2 linked regions of the Homo sapiens genome follow. The protein of the gene in region 2 interacts with the protein of the main gene of each other region in a biochemical or structural test. Each region holds a gene or a part of one and is shown on either strand. Other genes may lie near its edges.

Region 1 (3,500 bases), on a different chromosome or scaffold from region 2:
ACAAAAAATACAAAAATTAGCCTGGCATGGTGGCACATGCCTGTGGTCCCAGCTACTCGGGAGGCTGAGGTGGAAGGATCGCTTGAGCCCAGGAGGTCAAGGCTGCAGTGAGCTGTGATTGTACCACTGCACTCCAGCCTGGCCAACAGACCAGGACTGTCTCAACAATAACAACAACAAAAAGAACAAAGCTAAAACTGAGGCTGCACCTGCTATATGCCAGGCGCTCTTTATTTATCATCTTAAAAAAGTTTTTTTTGAGACAGGATCTCACTCTATCGCCCAGGCTGGAGTGCAGTGGCGCAATCCTAGCTCACTGCAGCCTCAAACTCCTGGCCTCAAGCGATCCTCCTGCCTCAGACTCCCAAGTAGCTGGGACTACAGGCGTGCACCACCACACCCAGCTAATTTTTCTTGTCTTTTTTATTTTATTTTATTTTTCTGAGACAGAATCTTGCTCTGTTGCCCAGGCTGGAGTGCAGTGGTGCAATCTCGGATCACTGCCACCTCTGCCTCCCGGGTTCAAGTGATTCTCCTGCCTCAGCCTCCCAAGTAGCTGAGATTACAGGCATGCACCACCAGGCCTGGCTAATTTTGTTTTTCTTTTTTCTTTTTTTTTTTGAGATGGCGTCTTGCTCTGTCACCTAGGCTGGAGTGCAGTGGCGTGATCTCGGCTCACTGCAAGCTCCGCCTACCGGGTTCACACCATTCTCCTGCCTCAGCCTCCCCAGCAGCTGGGACTACAGGAGCATGCCGCGCCACCTGTCTAATTTTTCTTTTCTTTTTTTTTTTTTTTTTTGAGACGGAGTCTTGCTCTGTCACCTAGGCTGGAGTGCAGTGGCGTGATCTCGGCTCACTGCAAGCTCCGCCTACCGGGTTCACACCATTCTCCTGCCTCAGCCTCCCGAGTAGCTGGGACTACAGGCGCCCGCCACCACACCTGGCTGATTTTTTGTATCTTTTTAGTAGAGATGGGGTTTAACTGTATTAGCCAGGATTTTTTTTGTATTTTTAGTGGAGACAGGGTTTCATCATGTTAGCCAGGATGGTCTCGATCTCCTGACCTCGTGATCTGCCCACCTCGGCCTCCCAAAGTGCTGGGATTACAGGCGTGAGCCACCGTGCCCCGTTTAGACCCAGCTGATTTTTCTTTTAATTTTTTTCTGTAGATATGGGTCTTGCTATGTTTCCCAGGCTGGTCTTGAACTCGTAGCCTCAAGTGATCCTCCTGCTTTGTCCTCTCACAGTGCTGGATTATAGGCATGAGCTACTGCGCCCCGCCTGGGGCTTTTATTATCTTAATTTTACATAGGAGAAAAAGGGCACAGAGAGGTTCAGTCATTTGCCCAATGCTACACAGCTGATGCAGGCTTGATCCCTGGGATGGTCTATTGAGCTTATGGTGCCCATTGCACACCAATTGAAGGCCATCTACCCTGCCAAGGGCTTCACGCTCCCATAAGCCAGGTTTGACAACCCAAACCCATTTTGCAGATGAGAAGGTAGGTCAAGGCCCAGAGAGGTTAAGCCATGAGCCCTAAGTCACACAGCATGCAAGTGGCAGACTCAGGGTTTTGAAATCCTGTTTCTCCAATGCCAAAGGTTATCCTGATAATCTCTAGTGAAGGCCAGGGTGCCCCTGGCAACTAGAGGGATATGCAGTGAGCACCAGCTGTGTGCTCAGCCTCTAGGATCTGATGGTCAGGATGGGGCGATGTACTGTTCATTAAGGTGTACAGAAAAGAAAGAGAGCCTGCAGGGTCACTGCAGATCCAGGAAGGCTTCCCGGAGGAGGCAGTACTTCAGCAGGCCATGAAGGAAGGGAAAGGAGAATGAACGACTGCTTTGGCAATGATAACTGGCTTATTTTGTTTTATTTTATTTGTTTATTTTTTGAGACAGAGTCATGGTCCGTCGTCCAGGCTAAGTGCAGTGCCACAGTCTCGGCTCACTGTAGCCTCCACCTCCTGGGCTCAAGTGATTCTCATACCTCAGCCCCCAGGTAGCTAGGACTACAGGTGCCTGCCACCATGCCCGACTAATTTTTGTATTTTTAGTAGAGACGGGGTTTCACCATGTTGGTCAGGCTGGTCTCGATCTCCTGACATCAGGTGATCCACCCGCCTCAGCCTCCCAAAGTGCTGGGATTACAGGCATGAGCCACTGTGCCTGGCCTTATTTTATTTTATTTAAAGTCAAGGTTTCCCTCTGTCACCACAACTGCCTCAAATTCCTAAGCTCAAGTGATCCTCCTGCCTCGACCTCCCATTTTTTTTGTATAGCTGACATACAGAACAACGATACAAAAAAAAATGATGCATTTATAAATGCTAGTTATCAGCAGTTGAAGACCAGCCTGGGCAACATAGCAAGACCTCGTCTCTACAAAAAAAAAAAAAAAAAATTAGCTGAGTGTGGTGGCGCACACCTGTAGTCCCAGCTACTCAGGAGGCAGAGGCAGGAGGATCACTTGAGCTCAGGAGGTCAAGGCTGCAGTTAGCTATGATCACACGACTGCACTCCAGCCTGGGTGACACAGTGACATCTTGCATCTTAAAAGAAGAAAAGATGGGTGTGGTGGCTCATGCCTGTAATCCCAGGAATTTGGGAGGCTGAAGTGGACAGATTGCTTGAGCCCAGGAGTTTGAGACCAGCCTGGGCAACAGAGTGAAACCCCATCTCTACAAAAAATTCAAAATTAGCCAAGCATGGCGGTACGCTCTGTGGTTCCAGCTACTCGGGAAGCTGAAGCTGGAGAATCGCTTGAGCCCGGGAGGCGGAGGTTGCAGTGAGCCAAGAGAGCACCACGGCACTCCAACCCGGGTGAAGTAGCAAGACCCTATTTCAAAAATAATAATAGTAATAATACAATGAAAAGAAGAAAGCTGTCAAAAGGGCCGGGCGCGGTGGCTCACGCCTGTGATCCCAGCACTTTGGGAGGCCGAGGCGGGCAGATCACGAGGTCAGGAGATCGAGACCTTCCTGGCTAACACGGTGAAACCCCGTCTCTACTAAAAATAACAAAAAATTAGCCGGGCGTGGTGGCGGGCACCTGTAGTCCCAGCTACTCAGGAGGCTGAGGCAGGAGAATGGCGTGAACCCGGGAAGCAGAGCTTGCAGTGAGCCGAGATCGCGCCACTGCACTCCAGCCTGGGCGACAGAGCGAGACTCGTCTAAGAAAGAAAGAAAGAAGAAAGAAAAGAAAGAAAGAAAGAAAGAAAGAAGGAAGGAAGGAAGGAAGGAAAGAAAGAAAGAACCCTGTCCATATGCCATTTTGCGCGTGTGTGAGGATATCTGTAGGACTGATTTCTGAAGGTAGAATGACCCGGTCAAAGGACCGTGTGTTGGTTATTTCGAGCCCTGCTGCCAAGGGAGATTCTGTGGTGGCAGGAGTGATAGTTTTTGTTGTTGCTGTTTTGAGACAGAATTTCTGTCGCCCAGGCTGGATCTCAGATCACTGCAACCCCTGCCTCCCGGGTTCAAGCGGTTCTTCTGCCTCA
Region 2 (2,644 bases):
GAAATTTTAGAAACTAAACAGTGTTTAGCTTAGTTCCCTAGATTGTTATACTCTAGAACTGTTAAGACTTATAATAACATAAAAATGCCTCATCCTCAGTCTTTATCTGCTCTTTTAAAACAGACTTTAATAAAATGCATCAGTGACTCAACTATCCACATCCATGTGTCATACTTAAAGGGTAGATAACTAAGAAGAGGCTGTTACCAAACAACTTGTATTTTTATACTTAAGAAAATTATAGAGAAAACATAATCTTACAGAAAAATATATAATATAAAGTAATTTAGTGAATTAGTCTCAAATGCAAGAAAATTCACTGTTATTTTTCTTTCTTTAGAAGCCTGGAAAAACAAATTATTTGCTGAACTTAGCACTTCAGTTTTCTCTTATTCAGGGGAGAAAACTCTCTCATATAAAATGTAAAATATCTTAATATTTATTTTTATAACTTAAATTGACTTTTCTTCTCCATCAAATCAAATGCAATGGAGCAGGAGTTCTGTGTTTGTCACCAATCCTTTATTGAAACTGGTAACTTACACACTTTATAATAGAACAACAAAAATAATGTTCAATATATACAGCCTTCGCATGGACTATCTGACTATACACAGGCAGAGTGATAACACAATCTAATCTTCATCATAATCTGTGCACAAAAAGACACCAAACAGACAACATGTGCACATCACAGTGAAATGACATCACAGGTCCAGTGAAAATTCAGCATAATACAAAATGGACTGCTCTATTGCAAATGACATCTTTCTAAATGCCCAGCTCTTACTCAGTAGTAATTTACCCAGAGTCTGAAGCAGAGATTGGTTGTGTGGCTATAAGTCTCTTGAGTGAGACAACCTCTGCAGATAAGTTTGCTATCCCCTGCTTCAAATACAAGTTCTCTGGGTCAGAAACTTTGTAGCCACTGTCTTTCATTTCAACAACTCCAGTTTTGAAACTATTCTGAGTTTTGCCACTCAGTTCTTTTTGATGCCAGTGCTCCGATTTGAGAGACCAATCTTGAATGTTAGTCACTTGCACTGAGAAAGGAGTAAGAGAAGAATGTACCATACTTGGGGCACTATGCTTTTCGAGTTCGAAATGTCTTTTAGATGTCATGTCAATAGGTGAGGAAAGTTTTTGCGTGGCCTCAAATTCATTATCAAAGGCTTCTACTTTGATCTGCATGGCTTTGGCTTTGATCCGGAGCTTGTGTGGCAAGGCAGAGGAATTCACTTCTGGAACTTTAACCACAGTTGCATGCACATGCTTGAGTTCAACTGGAGAATGGATGGGGCCCTTGGGGACCTGTTGCTCGTCTTCTCCATCAGATGACTTTCCTACCACACCATCATCAGTTTCCGACGTTCTCGGGGAGTTGCTGGAGGATCGGTTGACTTGCAGTAGTGGGGGAGAGTGTGAGTACCCAGAGAAAGAATTCCCCATATAGTTTTGATAGATGGACGCTGTGTAAGAGCCTCGGTCATCTCTTGGCTCCCTTGTGTAGCTCTCTAATTCCATCGGCTCTTGCTTGATAATCTGGAACTTGTTTTCAGGACTTCTGCAGCTTCCCTGCACAGAGCTCTCCTGCGTGTGTTCTACTGAGGACACTTCTGAAACATCGGACAGCGAGCTTTGTGGAGAGTGTTTAATGACAGAAATACAACTACTTGACACCATCGAGGGTTCGTGCTCGTCCACAAATGAACTCACATTGGATTTGGAAGTCTGGTAATCTTGAAAGTACACAGCTGTAGAATTACTGAGTTTCTGAATCTCTTGAGCATATGCTGTGGAGCTAATTAAACCAAACTTTAATTTTAGTGAAAGCAGCTCAGCTTTTAAAGTGGCGTTTTCTTCTCCCAGTGCAATTAGTTTGTTCTCTAAAACCAGGTCATTCAGTCGACGCTTCTCACGAGATCTTTTGGCAGCTTCATTATTTTTCCGCCTTTTTTCCCAATACATAGCATCTTTCTTTTCATCAGGAATGAATTCCCGTTTCCTCCGACATGCAGAAGATTTGTTCTTCCCCACACTTCCTTCACTGAGAAGCAGCTCCTCACCTGTTGTGGAGTCTTCTGACACTTCCGTTAAAGCAGAATTAAGGACCATCATCTTGTCCACATTGCTACTGGCATCAAGAGACGCCTGCTCCTTTTTGACGGTCTGCATTTTTCTCAGCTGCATCAGAAACAACCTTACCCTATCTATGTGTGTAGGAGAACAAATTAATTTCCCCGTATTCTCAAGCTCTTTAAAAACTCTGGTTTAAAATCCATCAATATTCTTCCTTTTGTTCTACCGTCTGGGATAAATCCGTCAGGCTCCTTATTGAATGAAGTTGGGCCTCCTTCGTTATCTGCAATACATGAATAAAAAAAAAACCAGTTATTCACTGGATAAATGTTTATTACAAATTATGTACAAGGAAATATGCTAAGCATTTAGGGCATACAAGCACAGATGAGGCATGGCCACAGTTCTTTCTTTCAACAAGTTAGCATTTTCAAAAAGGAAATAAGTTCCCAAATACCTAAACTATAAAGCTGTAAAGGACAAATCCCTAATGAGGCCTATCAGTAAGAGAATATGTGATCCAGGAAAGTGAGGGAAAAATAAAATAACCTCTGCCCAGAGAGAA

Evidence for each region. Proteins that work in one complex are often made in the same cells at the same time.
Region 1: the proteins of NFIL3 (region 2) and CREB3L3 interact in a test that uses a peptide from one of them, tested with the Homo sapiens proteins (one large-scale study listed by IntAct).

Annotation. Positions count from the first base shown.
Region 1 is NC_000019.10:4,160,131-4,163,630, forward strand, and holds part of CREB3L3 (cyclic AMP-responsive element-binding protein 3-like protein 3), read left to right. Parts: intron 1-3,500. UniProt on the Homo sapiens protein: Transcription factor that may act during endoplasmic reticulum stress by activating unfolded protein response target genes. Activated in response to cAMP stimulation. In vitro, binds to the cAMP response element (CRE) and box-B element.
Region 2 is NC_000009.12:91,408,545-91,411,188, forward strand, and holds the end of NFIL3 (nuclear factor interleukin-3-regulated protein), read right to left. Parts: intron 2,637-2,644; exon of another isoform or gene 2,459-2,636; intron 2,363-2,458; 5' UTR 2,191-2,362; coding exon 802-2,190; 3' UTR 501-801; downstream 1-500.